Homo sapiens: one gene and its partner. The main gene of each other region encodes a partner of the protein of the gene in region 2 in a complex. Each region holds a gene or a part of one and is shown on either strand. Other genes may lie near its edges.

Region 1 (8,750 bases), on a different chromosome or scaffold from region 2:
CAAAGGCCAGGCCTGGTGGTGTGTACCTGTAATCCCAGCTACAAATTATAAATAAATTAACCAGGCTACTCAGGAGGCTAATGTGGGAGATCGCTTGAGCCCAGCAGGGTTGAGGCTACAGTGAGAGGCTGCAGTGAGCTGTGATTGCGCTACTGTACTCCAGCCTGGGCAACAGTGAGATTCTGTCTCAAAAACAAACAATCCTTTTCTAATTGACAGGAGAAAATACTAGAATGCTTGGTGGAACATGCACTTATAAAACTATAGTCTCTATTTTTGCTTTAGCAAAATAAAAAGAGAGACACTAAAGTAACATAAGGGAGTCATAGGGCAAACAAGCCACTCTCTAGCCTTCTAAAAACAGCCCAAGCCGGGCACGGTGGCTCAAGCCTGTAATCCCAGCACTTTGGGAGGCCGAGGCAGGCGGATCACGAGGTCAGGAGATTGAGACCATCCTGGCTAACACGGTGAAACCCCGTCTCTACTAAAAATATAAAAAAAAAAATTAGCCGGGCGTGGTGGCGGGCGCCTGTAGTCCCAGCTACTCGGGAGGCTGAGGCAGGAGAATGGCGTGAACCCAGGAGGTGGAGGTTGCAGTGAGCCAAGATCGCACCACTGCACTCCAGCCTGGGCAACAGAGCAAGACTCCGTCTCCAAAAAAAAAATTCAGCCCAATTAGGTAAGAAGTAAATAAATAACAAATAACTTGTGGCTGAGGTTTAAGAATACTTGTTGGCAGCCGAGTGCGGTGGCTCACGCCTGTAATCATGGCACTTTGGGAGGCTGAGATGGGTGGATCACCTGAGGTCAGGAGTTCAAGACCAGCCTGGCCAATATGGTGAAACCCTGTCTCTACTAAAAATAAAAAAATTAGTGCGGTGTGGTGGTGCGCGCCTGTGGTCCCAGCTACTTGGGAGGCTGAGGCACGAGAATTGCTTGAACCTGGGAGGCAGAGGTTGCAGTGAGCCAAGATCGTGTCACTGTACTGCAGCCTGGGCAACAGAGTGAGTGAGACTCCATCTCAAAAAAAAAAAAAAAAAAAAAAAAAAAAAACTTGTTGACGGCTGTAAGGGCTTTTGTTGTTAAGTTCTAGAGTCACAAAAACACTAGGAGAAATCTTTTCTCTAAGATCAGGATTCATACTAGGTTTGAAGATTAAGGTAGTATTAAGCATGTTTGATATTATTAGTTCATGAAATTTAGAATTAGAAAGTCCTTAGAGATCATAAGATCTAATCAATTTCTTATTTTATAGATAATGAAACCGAGGCACAGAAAGTTAAGCAACTTATTCAAGATCATACAACTAGAACTTATTTATAGGTGCTCTTCTTCAATTGAAGGAGGACTCATGTTTGATTATAATACTGTTAACATTTAATTGTTTCAGTAGTTTTTTTAAACATTTATAAAGTAGAAACACATGCTTAATTGTGGACTAGGCCTATGGTCAGACCATTACTACATGAAAACATCTACCATCACCTGGTGGCAGCATATCTGTGTGCAGTTAATTTAAAAGACACATTATGTAAGTTTCTCAAAGGTTAACTCTAAACATAAACAGATCACGAAGAATATCCCATTCTTTTGCCTACTTGTAACTAGCTTTGGCAAGCAGTTGATAGATGCGTCCTTTCACATCTTCAGTTGTCTCTGTATTGGCAATTTGCTCAGGAATCTCCTCCTCTCCCTGGGGAAGCTGTAGAAGCTGCTGCAGGGTAGACTTCAACTCTGGCAGCATGGCTTCCCACTCCTCCTCTGGGTCCAGCACTGCAGCTAAATGAGAGTGTCACTTAGTCTCTTTCACTAGAGTTTCTGACTGCAAGGAGAAGCCTGTCTGGCATTAGGACTCCAAGGCAGTAACTACTTACAAGCTGCTGCAGTTCGCCTCTGGGCCCTCATCTCTTGTAATTTCTGGGTCTCCTTCTGCAGTGGTCCGGCAAGGTCAGCATCACTAAGCTATCAGGTAAAATGAATAGCAGGGTCAGTAAATGACATAATTTCATCCCTGTTTCCATTTAATTCCTTCTCTTTTGGTGGACCAAGTCTACTTACCTTGCAGGAGAAAGGATTATTGGCTAGAAAACTGGCCAGCAGCTGGATGGCATTTTTACATACTAGCACTGACTTGTCTGCCAGACGTCCCACAGCTAAAGCCACCACTGCCTGGAAACGTGTCAGGGGGAGAGCCTGTGTAGGGTAGGAAGAGAAGAATCTGCTCAAGTCCCACATCATCCATTTTGTTCAAGATGATCTTTAAGTATACTCTAAACTGAGCTACCCACTCACTCTAAAAACCCTTTCTACAGAATATAGATTAGGAGTACTCCTTGTAGTGGTAAGACACATTACAGTCCTTAAAGGGAGCCAGATATCCTCGTCCTTGGTAGAGGAAGACTTTTACTACTGATAATAAAAATGTGAATTCTAGACCTCTTTGGGGCAGATATTTATCTTCAACACTGGATTCCTCTTTACACTGGTATATGGAGAGGTACCATATGTTTTTGCCACATAGAAGTTGGTTACCTTCTGCTGGACAATTCGGGTGAAGAGCTGCAAAACACGGCTCCGCACAAAGGAGTTGACATCATGGCCATGGGCTTGTAAAGTATCCAAGAACTGGTCTCTGGTGTCTCGGGCTGCTGCTTCCAGTTGATCGCCACTGAGAACCTGCAGCACCATCTCCGCCATGGCTGCCAGCACAGCATTACGCATCATGTAATTCTAAGAGAGAGAAGCATAGAGGGGTCAAACCTTTAGTCAAGGCGAAGCTTGCTTGTGCTTGGCCATAACTTTTTCCATTAACTGCCTAGGTATTCACTCCCAAGGTCACAGGAGAAAGCTGAATCCCAAAGAGGACTTGTTGCTCAGAGAATGCTAGAACAAGGGCCAAAACCAATTTTTCCTCATAGGGCTCACACAGGAAAGCATGGTAGTAGCTGAATAAAAAAATCACATCCACTCACCAACACACATTTGAAAAGCATTTATTAACTACCCTTCAGCTGAGGTCTCAAAGCCTTTGTTATTGTGGTTGTTTGTTTGTTTTTGAGACGGAGTCTTGCTCTGTTGCCCAGGCTGGAGTGCTGTGGCGCCATCTCGGCTCACTGCAACCTCTGACTCCCGGGTTCAAGTGATTCTCCTGCCTCAGCCTCCCAAGCAGCTGGGATTACAGGTGCCCGCCACCACACCCAGCTAATTTTTGTATTTTTAGTAGAGACAGGATTTCACCATATTGGCCAGGCTGGTCTCAAACTCCTGACCTCGTGATCCACCCTCCTCGGCCTCCCAAAGTGCTGAGATTATAGGCGTGAGCCACCGCGCCCGTCTGTGTGGTTTTTTTTGGTTTTTTTTTTGAGACAGAGTCTCGTTTTGTCACCCAGGTTGGAGTGCAGTGGTGCGATCTCGGCTCACTGTAACCTCCATTTCCCAGGTTCAAGCAACCCTCCCACTTCAGCCTCCCGAGTAGCTAGGATTACAGGTGCGCGCCACCACACCCAGCTAATTTTTTTTTGTATTTTTAGTAGAGATGGGATTTCACCATGTTGGCCAGGCTAGTCTTAAACTCTTGACCTCAAGTGATCCACTCACCTCAGCCTCCCAAAGTGCTGGGATTACAGGCGTGAGCCACCACACCTGGCCTCAAAGTCTTTAATCCTTACTAATAAATATCCCCTCCTTTCCCTCCCACTCTCCTTCAGATGCTTTACTGACAGAAAATGAGACAGAAACATGGAAATCAGCCTTAAGAGTGCCAGCAAGTCCAATACATAATCTAGTGGAGAGCAGGGTTAAGGTTTTGCCAGGCTAAGAACCAGAGAATAGGGTCTTGCACAAAAAGTTAAAGTAAATGAGATGAACAAGTGGACTGTCTTTGTCCTTGACATTCACCTAGGAGTGCCCAACATCAGTATGGGAATCAGCCAGGTTAGCATTCAGGCATAAAAGAGAATTGAGAGAGATGACATGGGTTGATTTGAGAAAGTTCATTGTTTGAGGAAGCAAGGCAAGCCAGCTGGTGGGAAGACGCTTTATCCTGAGGAACAGATGGGACTCAGAATCAAAGCTGAAGGCTAAGCATGGTAGCGCCTGCAATCCCAGCACTTTGGGAGGCTGAGGCAGGAGGGTTGCTTGAGACCAGGAGTTTGAGACTAGCCTGGGCAATATGGCAAGACCCCACCTCTACAAAAACTAAAAAAATTAGCCAGGCATGGTAGTATGTGCCTGAAGTCCCAGCTACTTGGGAGGCTGAGGTGGGAGGATTGCTTGAGCCCAGGAGATCGAGGCTGCAATGAGCTATGATCATGCTCCAGCATGGGTGACAGAGCCAGATCCTACCTCCAAGAAAAAAAAAAAATCAAAGCTGAGTTGCTCTTACTAGACTTAAGCTGCAGAAATGTCATCTCCCTTACCAGAACTGGATAAAAGCAATGTGAATTGAAAGATTAACAGATTAATAAAGAGCTCCTTATTCAACAAACTTGACCTGCTTCTCTACAGAAAGGAAATGTCACAATGATAAATCTAGACAACTTGTCAAAGCTACTTTCTTGTTCTGTTAAGAAACAGCCTTTCAACACTGGACTTAAAATCCCCAGAAAAAGCTCAGTGACCCCTAGTGGACCACCTACTTCTCCATCCAGGTGATCTAGCAAAATGCACATGCTGGACATCAGGATAGCTGGGACACGTTCTGCTAGTTCTGTCAGGAATGCTGCAAAGCCCTTTGTCCCTGAAGGGTCTCGACTCAGCTCTTGGGGACACTTTTGTCCAATCTCTCTACACAGGGAAGAAAACACAGCCATAGCAACATAGATCAATTATTCAGTTCCCAGTAAGGGAAGGTAAGACAGGTATCTAATATCTGAAGGAATCTACTGTTGCACAGATAATGTATTTCCAATCTTTCTTTATTCCCTCCCCAAGGAAAATAAGCATGAGAAACTTCGAGAAGGAAGAGTCACCTTACAATCTCTCCCACTATGCTCTTCATTCCATAGTCAGTTGCCCATAGACTCACGGCTGCAACCAGTACAGGTGCCAGGTGTTCAAAGTGCTGCAGCATCTGGATGATCTTCACTGTAGCACCTGTGGAAGCATTAAACATGAGAAATTATGGGCAATACAAAAAAGGCGGGGCAAAGCGACTGGTAACTTACTGAGCATATGGTTATAACGGGTCAAGGCTACACCAAGCAGGTGTGTTATGGCTTCCCGAGTGGGGCGGTTCTTCTGGTGATTAATGGTGGGATTCTCCAGAAGGCGGTAGCAACAGCCAGTAACCAAACTGAGAAAGGAAGAGTTTGAGATGATGAAAGCAGCTGTCTGAATCCAATTGTATCAGAGCCCTGCCTCATTCATTCTATCCCTACTGCTCCCAAAGTCAGGGTTTTCTTTATTCTAGCCATTACTTTCTATAACAAGTTGCTTTGCTTTGCTGACCCCAGTTAGGTACTCCTTCCTTCAAGATTACCAACTTTCAACCAGTTGTGATGCTGACAAAGAACCTAAATATATCATAAAAATATGATAGAGTTGGCCGGGTGTGGTGGCTCATGCCTGTAATCCCAGCACTTTGGGAGGCCGAGGCAGGTGGATCACGAGGTCAGGCATTCAAGACCAGCTTGGCCAACATAGTGAAACCCTGTCTCTACTAAAAATACAAAAAATTAGCTGGGTGTGGTGGTGGGCGCCTGTAATCCCAGCTACTTGGGAGGCTGAGGCAGGAGAATCCCTTGAACCTGGGAGGTGGAGGTTGCAGTGAGCTGATATCATGCCACTGCACTCCAGGCCAGGCGACATTGCGAGACTCCATCACAAAAAAAAAAAAAAAAAAGACAAAGTCACCAATGACTTCTCATTCCTAAATATAACGACTGATTCAATCTGCATCTCAAGTGGTCTTTCACAGCTGCATGTGATACAGTTAATCACTCACTTTCTCCTTGAAATATATGCTTTATCTCGCTTCCAGGACACAAGAACAAGACTCCTTTCTCAGTTTCTTTGGCTAGTTCCTCCTCAGACTCTTTTTTTTGAGACAGGGTCTGCCTCTGTTGCCCAGGCTGGAGTGCAGTGGTGCAATCACGGCTCACTGCATCCTTGACCTCCTCATAGCTCAGGTGATGCTCCCACCTCAGCCTCCACCATGCCCAGCTAATTTTTCTATTTTTTGTAGAGACACAGTTTCACTATGTTGTCCAGGCTGATCTCAAACTCCTGGGCTCAAGTGATCCTCCTGCCTCAGCCTCCCAAAGTGCTAGGATTATAGGCGTGAGCCATGCACCCGGCATCCTCACTCTTAATGCTGGAGTGCCCTAGGGTACCAGTCCTTGGATTCCTGCTCTTTTAGCTACACTTACTGATTTGGTAATTTCATTCAGTCTCACGGCTCTGAATACTATTATATTCCCAAATGTGTTATCTCTAGCTCAGACCTCTCTCCTGAACTCCAGATCTATATATTCAACGTCCAAATCTGACTTTACGTGGCTAATAAACACCTCAAACTTTGTATGTCCAAAACAGAACATCTGATCTTCCTCCCAAAACACCTATTCACAGCCTTCTCCCTATCTCAGTTACCATTAACTCCAGTCTTCCAAATGCTCAGACCAAAACCCGGGAGAGTCATCCTTGACTGAACTCTCCCTCCCACCTCACACCCAGTCTGTTAGCAAATCCTGTAAGCTCTACCTTAAGGAAAAAGTATAGAATCCAACTACTTCTCCCCATCTCCACTGCCACGCCTTGGTCTAAGAGACCATCATCTCTTGCTTGAGTTATTGGAACAGCCTCTTAACTGGTCTCTTGCTTCCCCTTTCCCTCCATAGTCGATTTCAATACAACAGCTAGGATGGCCCTGTTGAAGTACAAGTCAGGTCACCTCACCTCCCTGCTTGTGGCTCCCCAGTGGCTCCACTTCATTCTGAGGAAATGCCAAAGTCACCATGATGGCCCACAAGAACCTGCGGTCTGGCTCCCCACTGCTCCCATGGCCTCACGGCCTAACCCTCGTACCTGCTCTCAGCTGTCAGCTCTCTGGCCTCCTTGCTATTGCTCGTACGTGCTGGACATGCTCCCTCCTCAAGGTCTTTGCATATGCTATTCCTTTTCCCTGCCCTTGCTATTCCTCCACATATTCTCATAGCTCTCAGTCACCTCCTCTGGGTCTTTGCTCAAATGTCACCATCTCAAAGAAGTCTTACTAGAGTAGCTTGTCTGTCTGTTTGTCTGTCTGTCTATCTATCTATCTATCTTTTTTTTTTTTTTTTTTTTTGGAGATGGAGTCTTGCTCTGTTGCCCAGGCTGGAGTGCAGTGGCGCGATCTCAGGTCACTGCAAGCTCCACCTCCCGGGTTCACGCCATTCTCCTGCCTCAGCCTCCTGAGTAGCTGGGACTAGAGGCGCCCGCCACCATGCCCGGCTAATTTTTTTTTGTATTTTTAGTAGAGACGGGGTTTCACCGTGGTCTCGATCTCCTGACCTCGTGATCCACCTGCCTCAGCCTCCCAAAGTGCTGGGATTACAGGCGTGAGCCACCGCGCCTGGCCCTATCTATTTTTTTTGAGACGGGATTTTGCTCTTGTCGCCCAGGATGGAGTGCAATGGTGCGATCTCAGCTCATTGCAACCTCCCTCTCCCAGGTTCAAGTGATGCTCCTGCCTCAGCCTCCCAAGTAGCTGGCATTACAGGCACACACCACCATGCACAGCTAATTTTCATATTTTTTTAGTAGAGACAAGGTTTCACCATGTTGGCCAGGCCGGTCTTGAACTCCTGACCTCAGGTGATCCACTCGCCTCGGCCTCCCAGAGTGCTGGGATTATAGGCGTGAGCCACCGCACCGGGCCTAGAGTAGCTGATTTAAAATCACAACCTTCTTCCATCAAACTTATTTTACTTATTTTAAAAATAGACTTCTGGCTGGGCGTGGTGGCTCACACCTGTAATCCCAGCACTTTGGGGGGCCAAAGCAGGGAGATCACCTGAGGTTAGGAGTTCAAGACCAGCCTGGCCAACATGGCAAAACCCGTCTCTATTAAAAATACAAAAATCAGCTTGTGGTGGCGGGCACCTGTAATCCCAGCTACTCGGGAGGCTGAGGCAGGAAAATTGCTTGAACCCAGGAGGTAGAGGCTGCAGTGAGCCGAGATTGAACCACTGCGCTCCAGCCTGGGCGACAAGAGTGAAGCTCTGTCCCCCCACAAAAAAAAAACAAAACCAAAAAAACGGCATATCTATCAACAGAGCCTCACTCTCACAGCTCAGTATTATCTGTAGCCATCCTCCCTACCCACCTGACAAATTCTTCTTCAATTATTGAGTGGTTCCACAGGTGACGGATGTCCAACTGAAGTAGCTGTGTTAAAAGCTGAAGAATTGGTTGCCTCTCTTCTTCCCAGTCAAAGCCATGGGCTGCCTTGGTCCGAGCTTTCTTACCCTAAAAAGGATCATGTATACATTGAGGAAAAAATAAGGGAAAAAAGTGGGTCAAGATCTGTCAGTCTGAGTGCCCAAACAATCTAGTACCAAGACAACATAGAAGGTAATACGGAAGAAATATTACAAGTTCCACAGCGCTACTTGTCCAGGAAGAAAACGTGTGACACTTTTGAGTTCTTTCTCCTAAATTCTCAATGAGGACAGAAAGGATTTGTGGATCATTGGATTCCCTTCTTTTCCATCTATTCCCCTATCTCCCCAGACCCCATATAACGTGAGCCCAAAACTCCAAATTACCTT
Region 2 (9,963 bases):
GTTAAAGCCTTCTTTTCTACATGCCTCATCTCCTAGCCGAAGAGGTTAAGCTGTTGAGGGCCAGAAACAGGATTACATCCCAAGAGAAAAGAAAGCTGTTTGGCCTGCCCCTGTCTTGCCATAGAAGGAGACAGAGATTTAGGGCCAAAATCCTAGCTTGTAATAGGGTAATTTTTGTTCATACGCACTTGATTGATGATTTGGGAATTTGGCCATCTGTCTTCAAAGACATGACTAATATTCTTAGTTCGGCAGTCAAACTTGAAAGCATAACACACATACACACAAAGGACTTGACAGCCAAGTTCTCTAGAGAAATCTCCAAATTCCAATGCAGGTATACAATATTCAAATGTAAATATACTTTTTAATGAATACTTATAGTAACAAGAAAATCTCATAGACACAAGCAGTGATCCTAAATATAGATTTACTAAGTAACACACATTTTAAAAGCAAGTACATGGCTGCTGAATAATATCCTACAGAGTGGAAGCAGGTTCTAGGCCAAGTGTGGGACAGGCAGCTCAGGACCAAGAGAGAGGAATGCTACTAAACTTGAACCAGAGACCCAGTGTGAAACTTCCTCCAAAAGAGAATGGACAGAGAAGAATACAGCCCTATGCTACACAGAAAATGAGTTATATTCATAGATCGATATAAAGATGAAATAAAAGAGAATTCTGCAAGTCCAATGAGGCTATGAAGAAAACAAACCAAAAACAAAAAAAGCCTAGAATACTCTGGCTTTGTCACTTTGTCAATCAAGTAAGCCTGAAGCCAGAAGGAAGAATATAATGCTGATAACAGTACCTACTTTGTTAGATTATTGTGAAGATTAGATGAGAAAATTAATTTGAGAATAGTGACTGGCATATAATAAGCACTGAATAAATGTTACTGGCTTTGGAAGAACCTTGGAAATTTGGGAAGAGCAGGATATGTTTAGACAATAGATTCTGATTTGTACTAAGTCCACGAATCCTGGTGGGAAAAAAGAAAAAAAAAAAAACCTCTCAGATCCAGTGTTAAATCGACATGCTGCACACTAATTAATAGGGTCAGCCTTTTGCTTCCATTTTTAAGAGAAAAATATTACAGGGAATGGAGCACTGAAAATAAGTCTTAGAGAAGAAAAAAACAAGGTGACTAAAAGGGATAATTGTGCTGCATTACTGAAGATAGAGTTCCTACAGAATTACAAAGAGAAAAAGAGGCAAGGTGCCCCATTAAAACCCAGAAGGCACAGGTTTGCTAAACTACCAAACAGCACAGTAACTCTATGTTTGGAATCTCTGAAGTAAGAATCTTCCGCTATAGTAAAAATGGAAAAACTTCCACATGAGAGGCTAAGGAATTATCCTATAGGAGACAGATACATGAAGTCAGGGAAGTAGAAGTAACAGTAAAGAAGCCTAAGATCTGCCAAAGTTGTCATAAAACAAAATGGAATTGGGATTTTGTTGAATAAGCATCCTGTAAAAGAGAATACTAAACTTGGCTTGTTTACTATCCAATTCTTACAGAAGTACAAGAATGCCAGGATCTGGTAGTAGTCAAGTTCAAAAAGAAAAAAATGCATTTAAAAGTCAGAGGTTTTAATTAAGGTGTGAATATGTGCCTCATTCAAACATAGATCAGCTATTTCAAATTTCTTATAGAGTATAACTCCACTGATGATATTTTTTCATCCTTGCAACCTCATATAAAACAAACATAAAAAGTACCTTTTGCCATGCAATATTTAGGGCTTGGTTTTTCTTCTGGTCAAGGTCTTCTATAGTTGTAAGAATTTTGGATTTGTCATTTTCTACAATTCTCTTCTTCTTCATCAAGTCATTGTACTATGAGATAAAAAACATGGTTAACTGGGAAAATATAAAATCTCTTCTATATTCTGGAATTTGGTCAGAAATAAACAGTTTTCATTATTTTTATATACAATACATACATTGCTATTTACCAAAAAGATATAATGCACTAAGAATTATATATACTCATATACTATACATATACTGTATGATGTGTGTGTATATACACACTCATATACACACTCTTAACAAAATTAGGAATAAAATCATCCATATGTATATAACTAAATTACTAGAACTAAGAATTTATAAGACAAAGTCCTTAAAATATTTTGACTCCACTAATATTCCCTTATCTCCTTAGCAGCCAAGGCAAAAAAAAAAAAAAAAAGTGTTACATATAAACTTAAGTAAAAGGAGCCCTGAAAGCTCTCCTCTTAAGGTCAGCCTTAGCAGTGACATGAACAAAATTTTGATCCTTCACCATGATATATAGGAACCACATAAATTGGACCTTACTTTTTTTTAATTTTAAGTTTTGGGATACATGTGCAGAATGTGCAGGTTTGTTACATAGGTATACATGTGCCATGATGGCTTGCTGCACCAATCAACCAGGTTTTAAGCCCTGTATGCATCAGGATAAAGGGAATTGGACCTTATTTATCCCTTGACTTTATGGCATTAAACTCCTCCCCAGGTTCTGGCCATATGGTCTTTTACAGCTCCTTTGAACATAATAAACTCACTATTGTCTTATGGCCCCTGCACTATTCTCCCTTCCTGGAATGCTCTTTCTCTGACATAACGGTTGCCTGAAATTTCAGCTCAAATATCACCACTTTAGAGTAGTCTTCCTTCAAGCAAGGCTGTAGAGGGATAATCATACCATGAACAGCAATGGGACTTCCTAAAACTCTTCCTAATTCATTTCTCCTCAAAGCCCTACATTTCAAGGAGGCTTCACATTCACCTTTAACAATTCTAGTCAGTCCTGCTGTTTTCCTTGCTGTCCCTCTTCTTTACAGCCACGCTCCCCTAACCTTCTCTCTACATTTTTATCTTATTTTTTCATGAAAATCCATGTAATTGCTTATGTAGATAGATACAAAACACAAGAAAAAAAAAGGCCATCTGCTGATCAACAATATAGGCTTCTCCTCTGGTAAAGAGATGGGAGTTGATAAATTCTTTTGAAAAAAATATTAGACTCAGGTCTCATCTAATAGAAGTAAACGAGTAAAAGTGAACAAGTTTCATGTTATGCAGATCAAATTCAGACCAAAGTTTTCCTTCTACAAATATATCACATATTGCAAAGCTTTAATGTAGAAATGAAAACCAGCAGGAGCATTTTCTAGAGAGATCACAATACCTGCATGATTCATCTGTTTGGTATCTAATATAATATAGACTCTTTGTGCATATTCATGCCAAAAACAGTTAAAAAAAATTATGGTAAAATTTCTTCAAAGTAACTGTGCTATTATCAGTGTCGCAGATTTCTCATGAATTTTACTCTGATTTGCAAATTCAAACAGAATTTTCCAGCATTCAGGAAGGTATGGGGCATTAATAGGGGCATTAATATAAAATTACTAAGATAGCCATTTCTTATGGCTATCTTAAGAGTAGGGAATGCTTCCCCCACTGGGTTTTTCTAGTGATAGGTCCTCCCAAGTTCATCACTAGATGACAGTAAACTCCCTTCCCAGACTCAAAGTTTTGTCAGGTTAGGGAAGAATAACATTATTGAGTAATTGAGAGCATTAAAACTGAGAAGAGGCTGCAGAATTTACAGATCAGTGAAACAGTATTTATGTGTATAATGGCTTTAGTCATTACTTATATAGTTTCAGTATACAGTAGAGTCAAGAGGATGACAGAAGTATATCCTATTCAAGGCTTTTCAATGCAAGTGAAAGAAATGAAATGATAGAAATGTGAGGAATTATGTTTGACAAAGAACAAAAGCCAGTGAAAAAGTCATTCCAGGTGTAATAGAATGTAAAAACAACTAATGATGCATAAGAGTAATAAGAAAAAAATGACGAAAAGAGAAAAAGGAAAGCAGAAAGAAAAGTATCAAGGACATCTGCAAAAGGTTAACTCTAATAATTGCATCAGAGGTCATACAGAGCTGTCAATGCTAGTCATGTTCTAATGCGGCCAGATATTCATAAGAAATTGACTTACTCGCTCTTCAGCTTCTGTCAATACATTCATAGCTCTCATATTGACATTTCTTCCTAGTTTCTCCTTCATTTCTTGCAACTTCTGAAGTCTCTGACCAGCTTCTTTAGGGTTGTTAGTTTTGAAATCATAGGCACTATTGGGTTGGCCAAAGAGGTGTCTCTCTGCATTAATCCAGTCATAATCTTTCAACATTTTGGATACCTAGCCACATATAAAAATAGATGGGAGATCTATGAATGTTTACAAACCAATATGTATAAGCCAGTTTCTTAACTATTTAATACTTTTGAATCAAATACTGAAGAGGAAAAAACCTTCAATGACTAATTTTTTTTTTTTTTTTGAGATGGAGTTTCACTCTTGTTGCCCAAGCTGGAGTGCAATGGCGCGATCTTGGCTGACCGCAACTTACACCTCCCAGGTTCAAGTGATTCTGCTGCCTCAGCCTCCTGAGTAACTGGGATCACAGGTATGTACCACCACGCCCAGCTAATTTTGTATTTTTAGTAGAGACGGGGTTTCTCCATGTTGGTCAGGCTGATCTGGAACTCCCGACCTCAGGTGATCTGCCAACCTCGGCCTCCCAAAGTGCTGGGATTACAGGCGTGAGCCACCGTGCCTAGGCGACTCATTTTTAAAAATGAGTTTCATTACTGACAAGAATAAAGATGAATATTTTTACCTGGAACACAGACTACAGAAACAAGACACTGTATAGCAAAAGATCTTCCTATTACTTTGGCATTAGAAGAGCCAACTCACAGAGAAATTTTTACGAAGTATACGCAAAGCACCTCCATTAGAATGAAATGTAAGTCAGGTAGAACTCCTTCAGAATTTACCAAATTCAATCTATTGCTTCAAAACACAACTTATGAGAAGCTAAAACTCTTTTAATACTTAAGTCATAGATTTGGTAAAAATCATGGAAGCCTAATGCTGACTGAGACCTAATAATTTTTCTCTCAGAAATATATTCTAAGAAACTGCCCTAAACATTGACTCTATCCTGCTCCCCACCTTTTGAAAAAGGCACAGTATATTGAAAAAGGCACTGTATAATAATTTTTCATGTAATACAACTGATTATACAGTTCAAATTATAGTGCCTAAAGAAGACTTTCTTCTACTAGAATTATGATTCATTCTCACTGGCAGAATCCAATCCTTGTTAATTTATTGACTTGTATTAATTCCATGGATATGGTCTCACCTGTAGGCCCCAAAGTACAATTATCATTTCTAGTGTATCTTCCTTTTGACCTGTAAACTCTTTGAAAGCATCCTGTATGTGTTGCTCATCCTTACATTGTCAGTGCCTGGCACAGTATCTGATACTGGTAGGTATGTATAAATCTTTGATTGACTTCTTAGCAGACCCACTTGCAAGTCCCTCCTTTTACTCTTGTAAATAAAATCTCCTAGCAATCGCCAGTACTAGCATTTTCAATTACCAAAAAACTATTAGCAGTAACATTGCCATTGGTAGTATTTCAGTCAGTCCACTATCACTAAGCTAATGGGAAATCAATAGTAATAAAGTGGTAGATTATAATGTAGCCATGAAAAATGTTGTTTAAATCAAGTTCCACAGTTCTTTCAGAAGAGAGGGAGATTGTTTTGTATGTTCTTGATCTTTCTGAAGTTAAAGTTCATGTATTTTTAGGATGCTAAAAAAAAATATCCTGGACATTAAAAAGGTGCCAAACTGTTACACACTCATAAGAAAACATGCTAGATGAATTATTAATACCATGTGAATGCAGCTTCTTAACCAAGCAATGAATTTCTGCAAAAGCACGTGTTATCTTTAAAGCACTGAAGTAAAGGTGCTGTGACACATGAAAGAAAGAAACTGGGATAACCTCAAAAACATAGCTGCTTGGCAAAACATCAGATTTTTTATAAAGTTGCAAATACTGACAGCAGTAACACTCATAAAGACATGTGGAAGCCAATTCAGTCCTTTTTTTAGATTACCTGTATATATAGTTCTGTGAGTTTTTTAATTCAATTTGAAATAAGGTAGAGAATATATATCATTATTACTAGCACATCAGTAATTAGTTCTATCAACATTTGGAGGTGAAAAGTTATTTCCATGGGAGACCACTAAACATTTGGTAAATACATCCTGTAGATGGGAAAAAATATCTAAAGTTAAATCTAAAAATAAAACATTTGTGCAATTTGTTGAAAATTAGCATTGTTGAAAAGCAGTTAAAGCTGCAAGCTCAAATTTATGCCAGGCTGTAATTTTGCCATTTATATTTATAGAGTTCTCTATCAAGCAGTTTTCTAAATTTTTTCAAGAGCTCAGTAACAAAAATTTGATTTAGTATAAAAAATGCACACAAACGTATACCTTTGCAGCACCATCTTCAGCCTCCCGTTTATGTTTGCTGATGTTGTGGTCTAATTCCTTAATTTTAAGCTGAGAATCATTGTTTTGCTCCTTGTGTTTTGCCACTTCTGCATATTTAGCTTTAATTACAGTGTCTTGGGCTGTTATCACCTCTTTTTGCTTGGTCACCTCTTCTTGAGCTTTATTTACTGACTCCTAAAACAAAAAAATTAAAGAAAATATGTGGTGAGGTAACATGTAAATAATTTTAATTTACTAAACAATTATCTGACAGATCCCTGGGCAAGAGGGCAATGTGATTACAGGCAGAGAGATGATCACCTAACCCTCTATATTTTATATCACCATTAAAAGGACTAATCAATTTATACACAGAAGAAAACTTGGATCATCCCTGGTAAAAGGGGTGGGAGGTACAATGCTCATGCTGCACGCTCATGCTGCAAATGAGAGCGTTTTTTGTTAGATGTAATGTAGATGGAATCAACTAAGTGAGGAAGAAGAGGGACTGCTAGAAGCTGACTGACCTATGTGATCCCAAAACTGGCAATTCTGGATGAGTAAAAGCTATTTGTGCCTCATTCTCTCATGATGACGAGTGAAAAGACTGAGAACACTAAAGTCAAACATCTTAAGCTAATGTTTCATAAAAAGATTCGCATTTTCAATTTCTCGAATTTGATAAATAAATCCTACCTTATTTTTAGCCACCTCAGCTGCCATTACTTCAATCTGACTTTCATAGGATTTGATAGCTTCATTTACAGCTTCAAGCTGTTGTTTGTAAGATGTATGCTCTCTCTTGAGCTCTTCCAGTTCCAGAGTGATAGCTTCAACTTCCTATAAAAAATACAGTATTCAGGTATTCATATAGGTTATTAACTACTGAAAAACAAATATGTACAGAACAATTAAATAAATAATAATCTCATGCAAGTAAGACCCACAGCTTTGTTACCACTCAGCTACCGAAAGTACAGGTTAAGCTGCTTCCCCAGAAAAGGAAGTTTATTTTCCTATATCAAAAAAAAAAGTATGTGTAATTTTTATAGGTTCAAAGAACTCTGCATAAATTATTTTCTTTATCCTTTATTCCTATAGGGAAAATAATATAACATTCTACGTAACAGATGAATTACTGGAAGTAAAGCTTTTTTAAAAACAAAATTGTTCAATGTGTAAAAAGTTTCTCAATATTCTTCTTTCCCACTATAGCCTTCAGTTCATTAGAAGAGCAGTCCCCAACCTTTTTGGCACCGAGGACCAGATTTGTGGAAGATGATTTTTCCATATGGCGGGCACAGGGAGAGAGTATGGTTTCAGGATAAAACCACCCCATCTCAGATCATCACGCATTAGATTCTCATAAGGAATATGCAACCTAGATCCCTTGCATGCACAGTTCAGAAAAGGGTCTGCACTCCTCTGAGAATCTAATGCCACAGCTGATCTGACACAAGGTGGAACTCAGGCAGTAATCCTCATTTGCCTGTCACACACCTCCTCTGTTACTGGTCTGTGGCCTGGGGGGTTGGGGACCCCTGCATTAGAAAATACTTTTTACAGCTATTTAATGACAAGAATCTTAGAGTGGGCTAAAAAAAAATGCGAGGGAAATATATTTAGGTGAAATCGCATAAAAGTGATTAACAACGTAGCCTTTGGAGACAAAAACCTAGGTTCAGATTCCAGCTTTGGCATTAGCTAAAAGATATAACAAAGTATCATCAGTTTACAACTGAATGACACCTTGTAAATATAACATGCTTTGTCTTCCATTATGCTCTCACAGTGCACATTCATTTAGGTGCTTATCAAATAAAAATGTCAACTTGCTGAATCTCTGATATGACATCCAGAATATCAAATAATCCACTCCTGAAGAAAGGCCATCCACTCTTGAAGGAAGCATTTACCAACCGTCAACTTTGCCCTTTCCTTAAAATTAGCATCCCCTACTCACAACTATGAAACACTCGATTGCAGGGTTTTCAGAGAAAAATACAGATTAAATATCCCTTATCCAAAGTGTGTAGGACCAGAAGTCTTCCAGACTTCAGATTTTTTTTTTGGATTTTGGAATATTTGCATTATACAGAGTAACTGAGTATCCCAAATCCAATCTGCTCCAATGAACATTTCCTTTGAGCCTCAGATCAACACTCAAAAAGTTTCTAATTTGTATTTTGGATTTGAGATGCTCATCCTGGATACTCCTTTGACTTGTAAGAAGCATAATTTGTTTCCAAAGAACACTGCTCCCTTTTAGATTCTGAGATCAATTCTGATGAATAAGGTCAACCAATGATGCTCTACCACCTTCAGCTCTATGTTGACTTTAAAAGGTTGGTTCAATTTCAAAAAGAAGTTATTACCTGTTGTTTTTCTTTCATCTTCTTGCTAGATGCATCTGCCTTTGTTTTGGCACAATCCAGTTTTTTCTGAGCATCTTTCAGTTCTCGCTCTCTTTCAGCTTCTGCATTTTTCATTTTATTTTCCAATACTTCATATTTTTCTTCTGCTTTTCTTTGGATTTCTTTAGTGTTTTTCAAAGTCTCCTCACTTTCCTCTGCATCACAAAGTAAGCAAATGTGGCTAAGTTAACAATGGTAAAGGTTGACAAATTCAACTTTTAATAGAAGAAATGGTTTGGAAAATTACAGGGTACAATTTAAGAAAATTAACTATCCCAATGATATTCTAGAAATGGTATAATGAAACACAGATCCTACCCAAAAGCCATACTTGAATTATCTAAAGATCTGTAACAAAATAATTTCTTTTGCTATGAAATTGAACTTTACCTACAACTATCCTTTTACAAAGGTATTGAAGCAACCTATTAAAAAAAAAAAAATCACAGATCATATTTTTAATGCAATTGTATGCTTCCTAAAACCAGAACAGTATAACTATGGTATTTTTTCTATAGTTGCTAGAAAGTGTGTAATTTCATAAACAAGCTTACTTTATGTTCTTTGCCTATTTTATACATATTCAGGGAACTTCTCATTAAAGTCGACAAATAATATGACAGTATGCCTGGGATACAGCAAAGGAAAAACATCCCCAAATCTGTGAAAGAAAAAAATAAGGTCAGGCGTGGTAGTTCATGCCTGTGTAATCCCAGCACTTTGGGAAGCCAAGGCAGGCAGATCATGAGGTCAAGAGATCAAGACCATCCTGACCAACATGATAAAACCTCATCTCTACTAAAAATACAAAAATTAGCTGGGTGTGGTGATGCACGCCTGTAGTCCCAGCTACTCGGGAGGCTGAGGAAGGCACCTGAACCCAGGAGGTGGAGGTTGCAGTGAGCTGAGATTGCGCCACTGCACTCCAGCCTGGGGACAGAGAGAGACTCCGTCTCAAAAAAATAAATAAAAGGGCAATACTGAATGAACACGTGTTGCTGTAACAACTGATGTATATTGTGAGTGTTAGGACCCAGGTGCAAACATAACCTTGGAAGTCATTACCGCACAATTTCTTACACTACTTTTCACTGCAGAAAATACTATTAAAATATTAGTGGAGAAGCACATGTGTGGATATTGTCCTAATGAATGACAAAAATTTAAACTACCATAT

Evidence for each region. The genes of interacting proteins can lie anywhere in the genome.
Region 1: SMC2 (region 2) and NCAPD2 share a complex: the UniProt entries of both Homo sapiens proteins name them as parts of the condensin complex.

Annotation. Positions count from the first base shown.
Region 1 is NC_000012.12:6,510,808-6,519,557, reverse strand, and holds part of NCAPD2 (condensin complex subunit 1), read right to left. Parts: coding exon 8,748-8,750; intron 8,449-8,747; coding exon 8,306-8,448; intron 5,294-8,305; coding exon 5,166-5,293; intron 5,095-5,165; coding exon 4,971-5,094; intron 4,786-4,970; coding exon 4,638-4,785; intron 2,731-4,637; coding exon 2,533-2,730; intron 2,194-2,532; coding exon 2,059-2,193; intron 1,963-2,058; coding exon 1,875-1,962; intron 1,780-1,874; coding exon 1,599-1,779; intron 1-1,598. UniProt on the Homo sapiens protein: Regulatory subunit of the condensin complex, a complex required for conversion of interphase chromatin into mitotic-like condense chromosomes.
Region 2 is NC_000009.12:104,123,890-104,133,852, reverse strand, and holds part of SMC2 (structural maintenance of chromosomes protein 2), read right to left. Parts: intron 8,942-9,963; coding exon 8,748-8,941; intron 7,213-8,747; coding exon 7,069-7,212; intron 6,568-7,068; coding exon 6,373-6,567; intron 4,209-6,372; coding exon 4,008-4,208; intron 1,845-4,007; coding exon 1,728-1,844; intron 1-1,727. UniProt on the Homo sapiens protein: Central component of the condensin complex, a complex required for conversion of interphase chromatin into mitotic-like condense chromosomes.